5 linked regions of the Homo sapiens genome follow. The protein of the gene in region 5 purifies or fractionates together with the protein of the main gene of each other region. This does not show direct contact. Each region holds a gene or a part of one and is shown on either strand. Other genes may lie near its edges.

Evidence for each region.
Region 1: the proteins of RAB6A (region 5) and RAP1GDS1 purify together in Homo sapiens (co-immunoprecipitation; one large-scale study listed by IntAct). This does not show direct contact.
Region 2: the proteins of RAB6A (region 5) and NCAPD3 purify together in Homo sapiens (co-immunoprecipitation; one large-scale study listed by IntAct). This does not show direct contact.
Region 3: the proteins of RAB6A (region 5) and SPRYD7 fractionate together in Homo sapiens (co-fractionation; one large-scale study listed by BioGRID). This does not show direct contact.
Region 4: the proteins of RAB6A (region 5) and RIMS1 purify together in Homo sapiens (co-immunoprecipitation; one large-scale study listed by IntAct). This does not show direct contact.

The regions. Positions count from the first base shown.
Region 1 is NC_000004.12:98,417,888-98,422,075, reverse strand, and holds part of RAP1GDS1 (rap1 GTPase-GDP dissociation stimulator 1), read right to left. Parts: intron 3,420-4,188; coding exon 3,285-3,419; intron 2,058-3,284; coding exon 1,932-2,057; intron 822-1,931; coding exon 682-821; intron 1-681. UniProt on the Homo sapiens protein: Acts as a GEF (guanine nucleotide exchange factor) for the Rho family of small GTP-binding proteins (G proteins) that stimulates the dissociation of GDP to enable subsequent binding of GTP.
Region 2 is NC_000011.10:134,154,055-134,157,967, reverse strand, and holds part of NCAPD3 (condensin-2 complex subunit D3), read left to right. Parts: coding exon 1-40; intron 41-872; coding exon 873-950; intron 951-3,913.
Region 3 is NC_000013.11:49,919,068-49,923,255, forward strand, and holds part of SPRYD7 (SPRY domain-containing protein 7), read right to left. Parts: intron 2,514-4,188; coding exon 2,411-2,513; intron 1-2,410.
Region 4 is NC_000006.12:72,249,785-72,253,972, reverse strand, and holds part of RIMS1 (regulating synaptic membrane exocytosis protein 1), read right to left. Parts: intron 3,644-4,188; coding exon 3,513-3,643; intron 3,053-3,512; coding exon 2,881-3,052; intron 2,759-2,880; coding exon 2,605-2,758; intron 1,213-2,604; coding exon 1,141-1,212; intron 1-1,140. UniProt on the Homo sapiens protein: Rab effector involved in exocytosis. May act as scaffold protein that regulates neurotransmitter release at the active zone.
Region 5 is NC_000011.10:73,677,626-73,681,281, forward strand, and holds part of RAB6A (ras-related protein Rab-6A), read right to left. Parts: intron 2,096-3,656; coding exon 2,029-2,095; intron 338-2,028; coding exon 273-337; 3' UTR 1-272. UniProt on the Homo sapiens protein: The small GTPases Rab are key regulators of intracellular membrane trafficking, from the formation of transport vesicles to their fusion with membranes.

The sequences.
Region 1 (4,188 bases), on a different chromosome or scaffold from region 5:
GGTGCCCGCCACCACGCCCAGCTAATTTTTTTTTGTATTTTTAGTAGACCCGGGGTTTCACTATGTTATCCAGGATGGTCTTGATCTCCTGACCTCATGATCTGCCCACCTCAGTCTCCCAAAGTGCTGGGATTACAGGTGTCAGCCACCACGCCCAACAAGAAAACAGTATTTAAAAAATTTAAAAATCATATAATCTAGATACTAAATCAGCTGCTGAACTGCTGGCCTGGGTACTCACTATTGTGATCTTTAAAATAGCTCATTTGTTCATTTATTGGTTATCTACCATGTGCCAGACAGCGGCACAGCCAGCCACAAGAATGGATTTTTTTCTAACTCTGTGAGCTCTGGACATCATATACTATCTAGGTACCATTTAATTTCTAAATATCAGTAGGCTGCATGGTCAATGCCTGGCACAAAGAATGTTTGACACTGATGCTGATAACGGTGGTGGTAAAAGTAATAACAACAATAGCAGCAGCAACAACAGCAACCCCCATTTACCGAGTGTTTCCTATATCCCATGTATCAGCTAAGCACATTATATACATGATCTCACTGAATCTTCACAATACTTTCAGGTAAATATTATCCCAGTTGTTAGGACCTACAATGCTGGGTTTCTGAAAAAGACACTCTGAAGTTTTCTAGTGAACAGTTTCCTCTGGAACTTACTTTTGATTTACTGTGTCGTATAAGGGCAGACAGCAGTCTGTTTGACTCCCCCATCACACCAGCATGATCTTTGGCTTCACACCATTCCACCAAACGCTCCACTAACTTAACATTCTTTCCCAATTGTTCAGCAGCTTCTGCTATAGGAAAGAAGGCAAACCAAGGAATGAATCACTAACAGACAATCAGTTGAAATAATTCGTACAGATTTGAGAGTGTGAAGGACGTCTAAAAAAACACAGCACGACAATTTCATTAAAGCTAGAACTGCAAATATTCCTTATGTGATGGGCTATTTGCCTTCTTCTGTAACACTGTGAAATTTTATAGAAAATACAACAACAAATGACTTCATACTCTTTTGGTTAAGCCTGCTAGTCTGTTAGTGCTCTGGCGGACTATAATGCAGGGTTCTTAGAAAGACTCTATGCAATCAATATAGAAAAGGGTTTAAAATTTAGAAATAAGTAAATAAACATAATTCATTCCTAGGAGTGGTTCTGACTGCTGTTTCTGCAAACAGAAAAATGCTCTCCCTGTCTGGAAGACAAATTTAAAAAATTTTTGACTGTCACAATAATGAAATTTGATTTCAAAGCCAAGGTAAAAATGGGTATAGAATGCCAAAACACAACACCCCCTGCCGAAACTGATGAATAAAGCAACCTAAAACCAGGACTATAAGTACTAATAAGGAGAGATATGGTATAATTTCTATTTAAAGTCAATTATAGGCTGGACATGGTGGCTCACACCTGTAATCCCAGCACTTTGGGAGGCTGAAGTGGGTGGATCGCTTGAGGCCAGGAGTTCAAGAGCAGCCTGAGCAACAAGCCCCATGTCTAGTGAAATTCCAAAACAATTAGCCAGGAGTTGTGGAGCATGCCTGTAATCCTAGCTACTCAGGAGGCTGAGGCAGGAAAATTGCTTGAACCCAGGAGGCGGAAGTTGCGGTGAGCTGAGGTCGCACCACTGCACTCCAGCCTGGGTGACAGAACAAGACTCTGTCTCAAAAATAAATAAATAAACAAATAAATAAATAAATAAATAAATAAATAATATGTATAAATAAATAATTATAACAAGCATAAAAATTAACAAATGGAGTTCCAAAACCAACTTTTAAATCTTTTATTTGCTATTTTTTATGATTACATAATCCTAAAAGCTAAAAACAAGTCCTTTTTCAACTAGAGGCACATTAAGACTATCATATGAAAAATGCAAGTTGGGGAAAACATTTCTTTTACCTTGTGCATCTATTAACATTCTTAATGTTCCCAGAAGTTTGAACTGAACAGGAGGCATTTCAGATTTAAGAAATTTCAAAACTGCCTCTGTGACCCCAGCTGATAACATCTTTGCTTTATTTATAACTGGAGAAAAAGAGAGACTATGGTTAAAATGGTATTAGCATTCCTGTTGATAAACATTCAATTCAATACAGGTTTATTAAGTATCTTTAAGATCCATGTTTTATTTTTCCATTTAGAAACAATCTTGTCACTTTTTTGTCAATTTTAAGAATGGAATTCAGTTGTTTATGTGTGTGTCCGTATCCTATTTGTGTATAAGCGGATAACAGACAATATAATAATTTTTATGACAGTATCATGGCTTTTTAGATCCAATCCAAAACACTTACTTACATAGTTTGTAAAGGAAATCTGAAAATGTTACCCTCTTACAACAAAAAGCACAATTCCGTTTTTGATCCAACTGTGTTAATATAAATGTTATAGACATTAATAAATGTTACTATCCTATGTAAACCAAATGAATTCAAATGGATTGGATCATCATGTAATTGTACTATTTCATCTAATCAGAAATTTATTTTTAGAAAGTAGGATAAAAGAATAGTTTTAACTATCTTTTGTTGTATTTTCCATAATACAGTGATTTCATGACTTCCAAAGGCACATTAAGGCTATTTTAAAAAAATTGTACATCTGCTTATAGAAAAACAACAACTGAAAGTCATTCTTGAGTGGACTCTGTTAATTGATGTCATTATTCTACCTCAACTAAAGATGCCTAAGGCCTGGTGCAGTAGCTCTCACCTGTAATCCCAGCACTTTAGGAGGCAAAGGTGGGTGGACTGCTTGAGCCCAGGAGTTCAAGACCAGCCTAGGCAACATAGTGAGATCCTGTTTCTACAAAAAAAAAAAATCAGCTGGGCATGGTGGCACATGCCTGTAGTCCCTGTTCCTCAGGAGGCTGAGGTGGGAGGATAACTTGAGCTCAGAAGGTAGAGGCTGTGGTGAGCCAGGACTGCGTCACTGCACTCTAGCCTGGCTGACAGAGTGAGACCCCATCTCAAACTTAAAAAAGCTTAACTATAAAACATGATGAAAATCTAACAGTTCGCAAAAGGTAACAGGATATCTGAATGAAGGCAAAGATTATTCTTGTACAGTCTCACAAAACTTATTTAACATATGATCTCCATTTATTAGCATGAAAAAATGTGAACAATGTGAAGACTATTTTTTTTTAAATTTTCTTCATCAGAGCAGGTTCACAAATCACATACAGTTAATAGCTTCCCCAAATGATGGATTTTATTTTGTACACAGCTGCCTTCTATTCTTAAGTCTTACCTGGAATGGCCAGGTTTCTGAGGGCACTTAGTGCTGCATGCTGTACTGTTACATTTCCATCTTCTACATGTCTGTCCAGTAAATCCATAAGTTTTTCTACAATCCCATTGTCTACCATATGAATACAATTTGCATCTGAAAAAAAAAACACACATCTTTTTCTTCCTCTTTAAAATATCTATAAATACTTTATAATACTGATGTCTGGCTATTATCTACATTAGGGAAAATGGAGCTATACAATAAAATGAATTCCAAATCTTTCTCCCATCAGATTTATAGGTTTTTCTGTTTACTGAGTGAGAAGTGTTAAAAAAAATTCTTAAACTAGATAAAAGTTTTAAAATCAGAAAATTACCAGAAAAATCTTTAGTTTAGAGCCAGATAATATATCAGAAGTAGAAACACATGGTTAGAATGTCCAATATTTTTCATTTATTGTGATGTATGCTTGTGTTCTCCCAATGTTACAGTGATAGTACTCTACCTTTTGCTATCATGGCTGATACCTAAATTATTTTTCAAACACTTACAAAGCGGAGAGAATATTATAATGAACCACTATTTACCCCATATCTAGTTTCAATAATTATCCATATTATGCCACTCTTACCTCCATAATTAGGAAGTCACTCCCAAAAAGAAGGAGTAAAAATGGAGCAAGTAAGCCATTATGATATAATATATACCAACAGTTTGTACTGGAAGATGATTAAACTAAAAAGAAAAATAAACTGTATTTCCTAGACACGGTATATTTCATGAGGAACGTAAGAATGAGTTTCTAGACTGTATTTGAGTTTTTTGGTAGTGCCAGATTTCATAAACATAGAAGTCTGGCGCCCCCTGAAACATTATTAAACTAAATTAAACATTCTACACGATGCCAGGGGATTATTCATAC
Region 2 (3,913 bases), about 60 Mb from region 5:
ACTTTAAATTCTGGAAGCCCAGAAAAAACGTGCAGTCAGGGTAAGCCTTATGTTTGGTGCCAGACACAGTAGAGCATTTACAGATGAAAACACAGAACAAGCTACTTCTTATTCCTTTCAAAGCGGTGTGTTTTCTTATCTTTAAAACAAATAACGTTAATTGGGCTTTTAGGATCATGGGTAGTAAAACAATGCATATTTATTCTAGGAGATTTGGAAAATAGAGTGAAATATGAAACTCACCCATAGCAGTGAGGCATTCCTTCCTCCAGCTATTCTGTTCCTCTTACACACACGTGTTTTGTTTTGTTTATGGAATTGTGATCTGTGCGTGCATTGTTTTATGACCTGTTTCCCTGCATTCTTAAGTCAGATGTAGTAGATGTAGTAGACAGCTTCCATGAACTTTTCTTTCCAACCTTTGCTTTCAGTGGCTTTATAGCATTGTGGCTGTGGAAATAACTGATTTATTACTATCCTGTTCTTTGAAATGTTGATTTTCAATTTTTCCATACAAATACTATCACAGTAAACATCCTTGTACATATAGCCTTGTATGTATGTAATCCTTGGGATTAATTCCCAGCAGTCAAAGGCCATGGATATTTAAAAACTTTGGATAGTGTCAAACTGTCCTCTATCACTTATGCCAAGTTAGACTCTTTTATTTTTTTGAATCCTAATGAGAATGGACATTTTTTCTCATGTTTATCATTTATTTGTATTTCTTCCTGAATTGCCTCTTTATAAGAAAATTGTAAACACTAGTGATTTTGACTTTACGTCTTGCAGATATGTTTTCTCATGTGGTTGTTTTGCTCTTCGTTATTGTTTGGGGGTATTTCTGGATAGCAGCACCTTTTCTGTTCTAGTGTCTTCATACAGTTTGGAGCAAGAGTCGAATGGCGAGATTGAGCACGTGACCAAGCGGGCCATCAGCACCCCCGAGAGTGAGTAACTGATCGGAACACGTGGGCTTCTCCTCAGTCTCTCCTGCATTCGTGATGTGTTTGCTAGAGTCGCAGTAAAACTCCTTCCGGTGCAGGATAGTTCTGATGGTCAGAACCATGAGTGCATTGCTGAGGTGGAGTATTTCACAGTGACCACGGTCGCTTGATCCATGAGCACTGACCGAGTATGTTGTTCCAGTGTCGTTACATTCAGTCAGTCAAACACCACAGTGGCCCGCGGAGCAGACAATGCCGTTGAGGCACAGGTAGGTTGGGTGACTGACCCAGTGGTGCCTTCTGGAGGCGGCCCTCCGTGTCTCTGGGCTGTCCGGGTGCACTGGGCGCTGCTGGGTGGGCCTGCTCCCAGGGCGGGCAGACGTCAGCACCAGCAGGTACCATGCACGCTCTGCAACTGCCAAGACCAGAGACCCGGGGACCCCTGCTCGGAGCCTGTGTCTCATTCCCCTCCATGTTTTTTCCTACTGTTTGTGCTTTTCCTTTGATTTCAAAACAGAGGTGAGTTAGGAGAGTTGAGTATTCTTTTCCTATTATCTTGTGTGATAGCTTCATATTGTGTCAAACCTCATAAAAACCATTATTTTGAGAAAACTCTTACAGGAAGAAGAAATGCTTCCTGTCCTAAATCTGTGGAGTAGTGGCTAGGCCCTGCCGCCGTGTCCCTGTGTGCCCCTCGCTCTGCGCCCGGCTGTGCACAGTGCCCTCAGCAAGCTGCATCCAGCCCCGCTCGTCCCTGGCCATTCCACTCCTCACTGTTTCCACAGACCACAGTGCCTGGAACCTGGGAGGTGTCAGAGATCTCCTCCCGGAGACTTCTGGGAGGGCAGAGCTGGGCGCTGAGCCCAGGCCTTCTGGTCCCAACTCTTGTGCCCCTTCTCCAGCCTGTCTCCTAGTCCTGACTGCAGGGGAAGATGAGAGCGTGCTAAGGTGCTCTTCCTGGTAACAGAGCAGCAAGGTGTCCTGCCGTTCGTTTAGTCACTGCTTCAGTCAGCTCATGTGTGTGGAGCACCTGCTGTATTCTAGCTACTTGCTTGTTTGGTTCTGTCACACTGATGCTGTGATCTCTTAGAATAGTTAACAGGTTAGAGGTAATTTTCATCCAGGTCCCCCTTTGAAGGGAGTTTATCCCACCCCCACCCTCAGACGACAACCGAATCATGACGGCATTTGTCATTAAAGGCAGTGGGTAATTTGGGATCCTGCGTCGTGGACAGGTGCGATGTTCTGTGTGTTAGAGCTTGCTGTGTGTTCGATGTTCCTGGCTCAGGAGTGCCAAGAGCTTCTATTTTGGCAGTGAGGTGCCATATGCTGAAGAAACGGGGAGAACGCATCTCATTTTCGTTGTGCTCATCCTGAGTCCCTGATGTCAGTGTTGGGTTGTTTCCTAGCAGCTCGTGTTTCTCCACAGGGCAGCCTGGCGTGGAGGGTTCATGCCGCCCTCATCTGCCTGTGTGGAGCCACGCTTTGTGCTGGAAATCAGGCGCCCGGTGTCATTGAGTTGGTAGAGTACTTGTTCTTGCTCCAGGCTCTTGGACATAATATTCCTGCTGATGCAGTCTCTGTCCGTCTCTCTTTATACTGAACCAGGAAGAAATGCCTGGAGGTCTCCCCTTCCTGGGAGAACTGTTAGATAGTTTAAAAGCACTCAGTTCTGTTTTCTCTGTGGTTTATACGTCCAGATTCTTTTTGGCAACTTTTAGTTTAGGTGGGGGAGACTGTCAGGAAGTGTCTCAGCTCTTCAAAGCTGGCAGGAAAGATGCCACCCAGTTCAGCACCAATTCACAGTGGCTTTGCTAAATGGAAATGAAAATTAGTCAATTTTCAGAGCGAGGATTTTAACTGAAAATCTGTGGGGGTTTTAGCAAGTCCCTGTTACTGTTACCATTCGGGTGGCACAGACGCTGCTGCCTTCGATTCTACGCACAGTGCATGGGGGACGTCAGAGCCCCCGCACCCGGGCTTCTGTAAAGATGGGAGACTAATTTCCTGGAGTGCATATGGGCTTCCAAACAGGAAGAGCAGTGTGTGTGTCAGGAAGGGAATTTCATGTGACAGCACAAGGAGAGACTTCACCGAAACAGAATAAGCAGATCTAGCAGTGATGAGGAATTCTCTACCATCGTCTATTAGTGACACTCAAGTAGCCATCGGGTACACAGCTGCAGTGCGCTGATGAGCTTTGAACTGTAAATGGGAAGACACAGTCCATACTCAAGACACCAAGTGGAGAACGGGGAGCGCTCTGAAGCTGCCTCCTCGCATGTGCTTGCAGAAGGGCAGCAGGTTCAGTGGTACCAGCAAGCAGCTGCCCAGCCCGTGCTGTTCCCGGGAGTGTGCTGGTGGCAGCTTATGCACTGGGTACAGCACCACCCAGGAGGGGCGAGGCTGCACCACCCAGGAGGGGCGAGGCTGCACCACCCAGGAGGGGCGAGGCTGCACCACCCAGGAGGGGTGAGGCTGCACCACCCGGGCCTCCAAGACAGGGTGGCATGTGTAGGCAGATGGGGCGGTGGGGGGGGGGGTGCAGAGAAGCATAATGTGCAGACAGGGCCTGCTGAGGAAGAGGACGCAGGAGGGTGGACGTGTTTGTGCACGCGTGCACCTGAGCCTAACAGGTGAGTCTGTAAAGGCAGCTTGGGACCAGCTGAGACTGAGGGTGGACTTCAGGCTCTCCTAGGAACACAGCGATTGAGGTGTCTTGAAGCAGGGCAGTAAATTTACCAGCTTCTTGATGAAACATAACTCCAGTGATGCAGGGATGATACTGCTAATAAATGACAGTGGCTGCTAACATCTCTTGAGCACTGCCCTTGCAGCCAGCACGATGCTAAGCACTCAACGTGGATAACCTCATGTAGTCCTGGCAGCCCCCCAATGAGGTAGCTATGTTTTTATACCCACTTAAGAGATGAAGAAACCTGAGGGTCTCAGAGCAGCTCACACAG
Region 3 (4,188 bases), on a different chromosome or scaffold from region 5:
TTAGACTTACAAAACCAAAGGCAGAAAAATCATATACCTGTTTACTTAAAGTTGATAATACAAAATAGGCTGGACACGGTGGCTCATGCCTATAATCTCAGCACTTTGGGAGGCCGAGGTGGGCAGATCACTTGAGCTCAGGAGTTCGAGATCAGCCTGGCCAACATGGTGAAACCCCATCTCTAGTAAAAATATAAAAGTTGGCCAGGTGCTCACACCTATAATCCCAGCACTTTGGAAGGCCGAGGCGGGCAGAACAGAAGGTCAAGAGATCAAGACCATCCTGGCCAACATGGTGAAACCCCATCTCTACTAAAAATACAAAAATTAGCTGGGTGTGGTGGTGCGTGCTTGTAGTCCCATCTACTCGGGAGGCTGAGGCAGGAGAATCGCTTGAACCTGGGAGGCGGAGGTTTCAGTGAGCCAAGATCGTGCCACTGCACTCCAGTCTGGCGATGGAATGAGACTCTGTCTCAAAAAAAACAAAACAATACAAAAAAACCCCAAAAGTTAGCTGGGTGTGGTGATACACACCTGTAATCCCAGCTACTCTGGAGGCTGAGGCACGAGAATATCTTGAACCCAGGAGGCGGAGGCAGCAGTGAGCCAAGATCACAACACTGCACTCCAGTCTGGGTGACAGAGTGAGACTCTGTCTCAAAAAAAAAAAAAAAAAAAAGTTGATAGTATAAAAAATAAAGCAGAATGGATTGATAAAGACATTGTGGTTATGTTTTTCTAAAAAAAAAAAAAGAAAGAGACCTTTTTTTCGAGATACAAATAAAACATTTATGAATAAAATTATATATTACCTGGCATTTGCCTCAAAATAACCCAAGGAGGGTAAGTGAAGAACAATAGCAGCATTGGGGGTGGGGGGGTGTAGATGAAACCCGATTGGTTACAAGTTGATAATTGTTTGAAGCTGGCTGATGGGTATATGAGGGTTTATTATACTATTCTTTTTACTTCTGTACATGTTTGGAATTTTCTATAATAAAAATTAAGGTAGGCCGGATGCAGTGGTTCATGCCTGTAATCCCAATAGTGGTGCACACTTGTAGTCCCAGCTACTGGGGTGGCTGAGGTGGGAGGATTGCTTGAACCCAGGAGTTTGAGGCTGCAGTGAGCTGTGATCGGGCCACTGCACTCCAGCCTGGGGGACACAGCAAGACTCTGTCGCAAAACAAAACAAAACAAAACAAAACAAAACAAAAAAACAAAAAATTAAAGTTAAAATTAAAATTCTAAGTCACTATTTCCCTCAGAAGAGCATTAACATTTAAGGAATTTTGTAAGGGTTATTAATGTACAGTCTACATAAAATTCCCATCTCTAATTCCAAAATATTATTTATAATTATGTTTCCTGGCCATGCAATCATTCCCAATGACTTGCAGAAAAAGTTTTCTAAATTCAGTAAAGCTTTTTGAAACTTTCTAAAACATAAAACTACATGTTGAAAAAGGGAGTACGGTTATTGCATATTTAAGTGTAATCATTGTATTTAGCAAGTTTATTTTAATACATGGGGAACAGAAACTATCCTTAATCCTGCAAAGTGGGATTGTAATATCCTACCGACTACAATCCATATAAAAAGGTCCTTATGGCTGGGCACGGTGACTTATACCTGTAATCCCAGCACTTTGGGAGGTTGAGGTGGGTGGATCATCTGAGGTCAGGAGTTTAAGACCAGCCTGGCCAACATGGTGAAACCCCATCTCTACTAAAAATACAAAAAGTAGCCAGGCGTGGTGGCAGGCACCTGTAATCCCAGTTACTCGGGAGGCTGAGGCAGGAGAATCGCTTGAACCCAGGAGGCGGAGGCTGCAGTGAGCTGAGATCGTGTCACTGCACTCCAGCCTGGGTGACAGAGTGACACTCCGTTTCAAACAATAAATAAATAAATAAAATAAAAAGGTCCTTATTAACAATGTGTCCAGATTTCTAGATGATAGCTATAAAAGTAACATACACGCTGATATGGTTTGGCTGTGTCCCCACCCAAATCTCGTCTTGAATTATAGTTCCCATTATCCCCATGTGTTGTGGAGGGACCCAGTGGGAGGTAATTGAATCATGGGGGTGGTTACACTCATGCTGTTCTTGTAAAAGTGAGTGAGTTTTCACAAGATCTGATGGTTTCATAAGGGGCTTTCCCCAACTTCGCTCAATCTTCTCCTTCCTATTGCCATGTGAAGAAGGATGTGTTTGCTTCCCCTTCCGCCATGATTGTAAGTTTCCTGAGGCCTCCCCAGCTCTGTGGAACTGTGAGTCAATTAAACCTCTTTCCTTTATAAATTACCAAGTCTTGGGTATGTCTTTATAGCAGCATGAAAACAGACTGATACACACACCAAACAAGTTAATATGTATGTAATAATACATTAGAAATATTTTTGCTTACCATAAACAACTGGATACACTGTCCCTCGTATACCTGATGCTGGACAATGCATGTTTTTTCCATTCAAGTATACATTTAATTCGACATGGTCATAAGTAATACCCTAGGAAGGAAAAAACAGAAACGTTCCATAAAAGCTGAGCCGTCAGAAAGCATTGACTGGGAAGTATGGAAACACAAAAAGCTAAGCATAGGCTGACAACAATTTTCATTAAGGGTTGACAATTTGGTAGAATCCTACTTGAACTGAGCTAAAAAAATGAGTAGTGATTATGAGGGGGGATAAAGTCAGGTAACATCCCAAGAGTCCACATTAGAGGTAAAACAAAGCCAACAGTTTAAATCCTAGAATTATATTTGTATAATCTGGATTTTATATTTTGAATGCTAAGATAATATAAGTACTACATACCATGAATAGAGAAACCTTTTACACTCATACAGAAAACGCTGCTCTTTCTCTACAGAATTTGATCTAAAGAAGGAAAAACAATGAGGTTTTTTTCACTGTCAGGACTTACTACCTGTCACTGTTTTCAAATTATGAAGAAACGTCTCTATACATTTTATTTCCAGGAAGAAATAACACATTTCTACATCTCTTTACTCTGGTTTCAAATGTGTCAAGTGTATTATCAAGGAAAAGCTGGTGTTCACAACTGAATAAAATTGGTAATTAGTTTCAAGTTAAAAAACAAAAATAGTAGCTCAAATGATTTAAAAAACAATGTAATAAAATTACTCGGTACACTATTGATGGAAAAAAATCACAATTAGTGATATTAATAATTATTGTTAAAATAATTATTTTATAATTATATAAATAAAATATTTATTTGTATAAATATAAATTATTTATATAAATAAATAAAAGGCTAGAAAAGACTTAGCCCATGTTATAAACCAATAGTGCTACTATTCTAGGCAGTTCATATTTACTCATTTAATCCTCACAACAAGACAGTATTACTATCCCCATTTTACAGATGAAGCTAAAGCACAGAAAGATTAAGTAATTTACCTAAGGTTGCACAGCTAGGAAGTGGAAAAGCTGTGATTTAAATCCATACAGTATGGTTTCAGAATCCTTGCTCTTAATCACAATACCTCTCTCTAAATCACCATGCCTCTCTTTAAACACTTGCTCTTAATCACCATATCTCTCTTTAAAACTTTATACAATAGCTACTAACTGATAACAAAAAGAGATCTTTCCCTTGAAAGACAGCAGAGATCTTTCAATAGAGAAGTCATCATAGACCAAGAAGCAAACCACTTCAAGGATTTCAGGATTTCTGACTGTGGATACATTCTATCAAGTTAAAAGCTTTTTAGAGGTAAAAAAAAAAAATTTTATAGATCATCTTAGTCTTAAATTCTCTCTCTTTACAAGCAAGACAGCAAAAGCCCAGAGAAGCTAATGTGGTAAGTGGTATGAAAGATTCTCAATTCTTAGCAAAGCCAGGGTTAACTTAAACAATTATTAATAATTAAGGAATACTGAGAAAGATAAATAGTACATAGATTGCCTTTGCTTCGCTTTAGTTTATGTCTTTAGATAATAGTAATAAAGCTAGCTGATGGCTGGGATTCACTTTTCTAATGAAAAAGTCTGTTTTCATTTTAAAAAACAAAAACTTAATTACATAAAAAAGAAAGTATGTTACTCTCATTATGGGACTACCAGAAATCTAGCAGTTCAGATCAGTGAGGTTGTAATCCAGGCACTTTCATCCCCCAGTGGCCGATTGCAAACAAACAAGTTTGTTTTTTGTTTT
Region 4 (4,188 bases), on a different chromosome or scaffold from region 5:
AATCACTCGAACCTGGGAGGTGGAGGGTGCAGTGAGCTGAGATTGTGCCACTGTACTCCAGCCTAGCAGCAGAGTGAGACTCCGTCTCAAATAAATAAATAAATAAATAAATACCATATATTCTCTGAATTATAGGGAACAAATGAAACCTGATTTTAGAGAACTCTCCATAATTTTCTCCCAGTTTTAATAGTTGTATGCATCTCTCCAAACTGTGAAGTTAGTATCGTAGAATCTACCAATTTGAGCAAAACCATTGCCCTCAAATTAAGTACACTGCCATCTGAGAAATTATGTAAATAAAGGGCATATATATCAAGGGCATATATATATATACTGTCTTTAAAAACTGCCTTTAAAATTCATATTTATACATTTTAAGACTGTCTCTTTCATTTCTTCTTATTTGCATATTTACTTCTCCTCTCATTAGTAAATTTTTAAAAAGTATAGAATTAGTGCCAAGAAAGTAAGTCTTTACCACTTGATTTTACACTTTTCTGACAGAAGTCAGATGAGAAACATTTAAACCCTACAACATCACAAAAGTTTTACTAACTTACACAATGACAAAGAGATGTTCACTTCAAATTAATACTTAATCTTTCTTAAACATATTATTGTATTAAAACATATACACACATTCTAGGTATAATCAGTGGGAACACATCACAAAAGCTTTAAAAGTTACAGCCATGCCACATGCAATTTTAAACCCCGCCATGCACCTTTCTCAGTATATTCCATGGAGGGCTACATTATTTTCAGAAATGGTGGAAGGAAAATCATAGAAATGCAAATATAAAACACAGAAAAATGGAATTTTTATTTAATAACCCCATCTTTTCAAAATAAAATTCGTATTTTCACTTACGCTCAGAGCATTGTGAAATAATGATTTGTTTCACTAGTTAGACATGTTTCTACGGAAGAACCTCACTATGGGAATGCTAATTAGTAGAGACTAGTCCATTTAAAACTTTCTTAATAATTTGAAATGTAAGTCACCATGGAATAATATAATACTGATTTCTCTGTGCTATAAATCTTCAGTTTAGTATCCTAAAGAGGTCCGGAAGCTGACAGAGAAAACAAGCAAAGCAGCACAGTGAAGCAGGGTCATGCTCCTCACCCACGCACCTGGAGGAACTACGCCAATACCATCATCAACCTCATAATCTGAGATGTCACTATCACTGATTCGCTGAGATCCTGCACAACAGTAAGGCAAAGAGATACTTCTGTGTCTGGTTGGTTTATGAAACGTAAAGAGCACTGTCAAACTTTTTTTAAAAAGTGAATTGCATTATTACTGAAAACTTATGAAGACTAATACAGTAAACACTGAGCTAATTTTAAAAGAAATGTTTGTTCTCTAAGGATAACATTTTATCAGTATTTTTTTCCTCATTACACCAAAGACATATAGAAACAAGGGGACTTCACAGAATAAGATTTTCAGATTAATTCTTTAATTAAAATATTATACTAAAAGCCTTCAGCACAGTATATACAGTACATTGTTTTCTACACAATTAAGTGCTTTCCTCTGCAGTTCAGAGAGAATAGGGCTGAGTGGAAAGGTTCAGAGACATTTCTTGGCTGGAGCTCTATTCAGCCTATATTAATGAAAAAACATCAGGGCCCTTTATAAAATATTTATGTTTAGCTCCCCAAATTAGTCATTATACTTCATTAAACATTAACTTTGAGGAAATTACTGATCAGGGAAGCATCAACATGAAATATTTAATTATGTGAGAAAAATAATTTAGTTCCAGATTACCAAAATGAGGCTTCTTTCAGCTGTTAACTTAGAAATGTAGTTATGACACAAAAATTACTCAATAAGTACAGAAAAAAATAGCTTTTCCCAATCACTAGATGAATAGCAATAAACATACCTTCTAATATTTTAAACAACATTTCTTATGAATAACTATTAAAATATCTATGAACTGGCTGGGCATGGTGGCTCACACCTGTAATCCCAGCACTTTGGGAGGCCGAGCCGGATGGATCACAAGGTCAGGAGTTCAAGATCAGGCTGGCCAAAATGGTGAAACCCCATCTCTACTAAATATACAAAAATAAATTAGCCAGGCATGGTGGCGCACTTCTGTAATCCTAGCTACTCCAGTGGCTGAGGCAGGAGAATTGCTTAAACCCGGGAGGTGCAGGTTGCAGTGAGCCGAGATCACGCCAATGCACTCCAGCCTGGGCAACAGAGTGAGACTCTCTCTCGGTGGGGGGAGAAAAAATCTTTGAACTATAAAGTTATTAAGACTTCACAGGTGGCAACTCACCAGTGATGACAGAAATTATTCCATCAGTCAATAACCAACAGCTCAATTGGCCCTGTGCAAGAATTTTAATTCAGAGGTTTTTGGCTTGCAGCTCTGCAATTACTCTGCTATGCTATCTACATTATTTTCATTGTGAAAATGTAGAAACAGTTTTGCCAAGTTGCTTCATAAAGATGAACAATTTTCCAGTATTTTGATCTCTAATAAAACATTTAAAAAAAACATCTTGAATTATTAATCACTAATTAGATCATTACAGCATAATTACTTTGTGGCAACTAAAAGGACCTTAACCTACTTTGTAGCTTTTTGCTAGAGCTTTCTCCATGAATATGTCGCCTTGGCATGAAAGGTGATGGCTGAGGCAGAGGTAGTGAAGACTCATCATGTGTCTGAAGTTTATACCAATGCGGTTCATCATCTAAAAGCGCTGTCTCCAATTCTATGAGGATCTGAGAGGGTAATTCTCAAATTAAATCAAGTACCTTTATCAAAACATAATGTAATAGTAATCATAATAAATATCACAAAACTTTATTAACTATTTGACTTGAGTTTTTAAAATATACATCACCTCTCCAAGAAATTCACTTTCTTCTTCTTGCACTCTTGGTTGGTCCCACACAGTTATTTCTAACATTCGTTCTCTAAAATCTCTACGATGTACATGTGAATAGACAAAAGTTTGATTCCATTTTGGTTCTAGTATTTTCTTTACTGTTTTGGTCCTCCTTTTACTTTTATCACTGAAAAATAAGTATGTTTTGTAAATGAAAAAGCAAGTACATGCTGCCATCTACTGTAGTTACATGTAAAACTGCCATTGATATTTATATTATTTTAACTAATAACTCATGGAAAGTCTATAAAAAGATAATAGAGTTTAATAATATTCTAACTTCAGTTACAATATAAGCAGTATTGTAATTATAGGGACACATACAAAGGTACATTCTAAATGATGTGTCGCTATCAAAGACTAATATACCTATAAACAAGGTAATAGATTTTTTTAATTGACAGATTATTTTCAAATATTTCCAACACAATTTCCAACACTTGAGGGACTTCTTTTTTCAGAGATAATGTACTTTTATCTCCTCAGAATTATCTATTATATTTTTTAAAAACATCCCAAAAGAGAAAATTCTACCTTTTCTATTAGTACAGATTTTAAGATTTTTTTTTTCTAAAATTATTCACTACCTTCTATCTGGAAGAAAATACATTTTTACATAGGGATTTCGAGGACGTCCATCTACTCTAGCAGGTAGATCTGTTGCTTGCAGAACATTTACAATCAGCTGGTGTCCCACTTTATCATACCACAACTTCACCTAGGAGCAATGAGGAAAGGAATTATTTGTAAAAATCATGAGGCATTACAATTTTACATAAAACAAAATTCAAGTTATATTTAAATGAGGAAATTTTGAATTACAATATAATGCAATTACAGATATTTCTAAAAACACACCAATTTGAAAGCATAAACACACAGAACTTTACTTTTCTCTTTGAGTACTTTAAACATAACCTACAACTGGCAGGCCTTCAGTGTTACTGTATATTCTCACATATCATTTTATAAAATAAAACTAATAATAATTTTTCCAAAAAACTAAGGGAAGAGGGAGACATAAAATCATTATTATTGTTCTTAAATGTTAAAAATAAGAGTTTGAAGATTATATGTGTCTAAATTATTATAGCGTGACTAAATGCTTTCTCTGGTGTCACAGGTAGTTAAAATTAAAAAAAACAAGAGTTTGGATATTAGGAATAAGAAATACAAAGAATTAGAAGAGATCATAAAACATATTTACTGTGGGCCTATTTTATACAGGCACCGTTTAGTATTTCCTGGTATTTTTTCTCACTT
Region 5 (3,656 bases):
AATGTTAAGAAAATGTATCTAATTTTTAAAGTTATCACTGGAATATGCTGAAATATTTTGGCTTTTTGTAAAATATAAATAATGAAGACACTGACTTTTGTTGTGCTTGTGAAGCTAATAGATCATCTCCACGAGACAGGCAGCAATGATGAATTGCAATACGTTATTACTGAAGGGAAAAGGTTCAAGCCAATATTCACACTGCAGTCAATGAAAGAGTAAGGGGGCCAAAGCAGTGAGCTTCTGAAGAAGGTTGAAGATGACATGGGAGATTAGCAGGAACAGCCTCCTTCACTGACTGGTTGCTCCTGAGGCTTTTCCAGTTTTATGTCAATCACTGAAACAAAAGTTAAGAAGCCATAAATGGGAAAGTACAATTTCAATTCTTCCAAACACTAGCATTTCTGGGATGGCCCTTATATTCCTATCTGTCTTCAGAGCCTACACACTCACTATTTTCTACATAGCCGCCTCACCATATAAGGTGCTCAAATGGAATAAACTTGTTTATATCTACTATATGCAACAAGGGTCAGAATGAGGTACAAGCTCTATTTATGGGTATCTATCCTAAGGAACTTATTCTACAGTGGCAAGAAGTGATATGAAGATGATGTTCCTCATAGAATCATCTATAATATAAATCTGAAAATAGCCTACAAGATAGTTCCAACAGCAGAGGAAACATTTAGTAAATAATGGGACTTCAGGCCGGGTGCCGTGGCTCATGCCTGTAATCCCAACACTTTGGGAGGTTGAGGCAGGCCGAACACCTGAGGTCAGGAGTTCAAGACCAGCCTGGCCAACATGGCGAAACCCCATCTCTACTAAAAATATAAAAATTAGCTGGGCATGGTGGCTCATGCCTGTATTCCCAGCTACTTGGGAGGCTGAGGCAGGAGAATCACTTGAATTCAGGAGGCAGAGGTTGTGGTGAGCTGAGATTGCGCTGCTGCACTCCAGCCTGGGCGACAGAATGAGACTCCATCTCAAAAAAAAACGGCGGTGGGCGCGGGGACATACTTCAACTCAATAGAACATTTTTTGTTGTTGTTGTTGTTTTGTTTTTGAAACATATTATGTTTTATGTTGTTGTTGTGTTTTTTTTTTTGGGGGGGGAATGGAGTTTCGATCCTGTTGCCCAGGCTGGAGTGCAATGGCGTGATCTCGGCTCACTGCAACCTCTGCCTCCTGGGTTCAAGCAATTCTCCTGCCTCAACCTCCTTAGTAGCTGGGATTACAGGCGTGCACTATCACGCCCAGGTAATTTTTTTATTTTTAGTAGAGACAAGGTTTCTCCATGTTGGTCAGGCTGGTCTTGAACTCCCGACCTCAGGTGATCCACCTGCCTTGGCCTCCCAAAGTGCTGGGATTACAGGCATAAGCCACCGCGCCCGGCCTGTTTTATGTTTTTTATGAAAACATATAACATTTACAAGTGGGAAGAGCTGAATACAAAGTGCTACAAACTATATGGCTTAATAAAAATGCCTGCATATGGAAATACACTAGAAGGTGAATATGAAACACTGAAAACATCAAATTAAAAATCCTTAGAATTAACTAATATTAGATGTCCCAATCCTTGGAAATGAACTAATATTATGTCCTGTTTCTGAAAGCAGAGGCTACAATAAAGCTCCACTCTATTTCTTGCCTGTGTCAAGTAGAAAGCTCAAGTGTTAGAAAAAGAAATGAAAATTTGATATTCCATGAGGAAAAAGCCTAGAGTCAATGGGACTCAAAATGAAGAGGCAAGGACACAGGGATTCTAAGAGTTTCCTGCTCATTTAAAAGCAAGCAAACAAACACAAAACCTCTCACTGATTAACAACGAGAAGCAGGCTGCAAAGGGTGCACTTGGATAACCAGACCTCATTTGCTATAGAAAACAAATGAATTTCTATGCCTTTAAGTCATCAGTTCCTGGTTGTAAAAGGCAATGGCACAATATTCTTTAGCCAAGCAAGCAGGGCTCTAAAGACTAGTGTTAATAATGAAAAATTTCCAATGAAATAAAAAGGATACTATCTTCTCTGCTTCTGTCCTGTGTGCTTTCCATTCCCGGCAAAGCTGCTGCTACACGTCGAAAGAGCTGTGGGAAAGAGAGAAAAGTGATAACTGAGAGGGAACATTTAGCAAAGGGTACTGAGGTTTATGATCACTGTACAGTGAGCTGTCTAATGCTGGGCGCAGTGGCTCACACCTGTAATCCCAGCACTTTGGGACCCACCCGAGGTGGGCAGATCACTTGAGGTCAGGAGTTTGAGACCAGCTTGGGCAACATGGTGAAACTCTGTCTCTACAAAAAAAAACACAAAAATTAGCCAGGCGTGGTGGCACACGCCTATAGTCCTAGGTACTGGAGAGGCTGAACCTGGAGGACTGCTTCAGCTCAGGAAGTGGAGGCTGCAGGGAGCTGAGATCACGCCACTGCACTCCAGCCCGGGCAACAGGGCGAGACTCTGTCTTTAAATAAATAAATAAATAAATAATAAAATAAAATGTCTATTCATTCTATAAACGAGTATTATATAAAAAGCAATATACCAAATACAAAGAGGTATAAAGACATGATTCCTGTTTTTTTAACTGGTGGGATAAGACAAAAGTAAACAGCTATGAAATAAGCAGCAAAAATGTCATTTGAATAATAAAGTATTACAGAAACGCAGAAAAAGGACAGATCATTCATTTAACAAAACTGTATAGTAGCATTCCTATCTTTCATATAAAGAGTGAGGTTCAGGGCTGGACGCGGTGGCTCACGCCTGTAATCCCAGCACTTTGGGAGGCCAAGGGGTGTGGATCACGAGGTCAGGAGTTCAAGACCAGCCTGGACATGGTGAAACCCTGTCTCTACAGAAAATACAAAAATGAGCTGGGTGTGGTGGCACATGCCTGTAATCCCAGCTACTTGGGAGACTGAGGCAGGAGAATCACTTGAACCTGGGAGGCGGAGGTTGCAGTGAGCCAAGATCACGCCACTGCATTCCAGCCTGGGCGACACAGCAAGACTTCTTCTTGGCGGGGGTGTGGGGGGGAGAGTTAGGTTCTGAAGTCAGTGTATAATATATTGTGAAACTCAGTCCAGTCAAAATTATCCTTCATCGTTCATTAGAAAAGCACTATGTTAGAGATTAATACACCACCCCTCAAGTCCAACACAGCTGGCTTTTCTTCCATCATTGGAATGAGTGTCAGTGGGAGTGGCTGGCTTGTGTTTGAGGTATGAAGCTATGAAAAGTTATCTTCAACAGGAGAAACGCACTCAAGCCTGGTGAGATGTTTACTTTTGAGAGGCATATGAGAACAGATACTGGAACAACAGTTTATACTTCTTATATTGTCCCAATCTTAGGCATACACCCACTGGGTACAACAGCCAGTGAAACTGCCTGATTATTTCAATTATTTATCTTTTAATTAAGCACACAGTGTAAACCCATAAATTAAATGCATATGTGCTGTAACTCCTTTGTACCAAGTACTTGCTTACTTGAGGCAGTGTATCAGGCAGCCTCATTCTGTGTCTTTGAGACACAGAAATGAACAAGAAAAAACAGTTTTTTAATTCAAGGAGCTCAAAATCTGGTAAAGGAGATACTCAAACAATTCTTTATATTACAATGTGATGCTACAAACAAAGTAAGTTT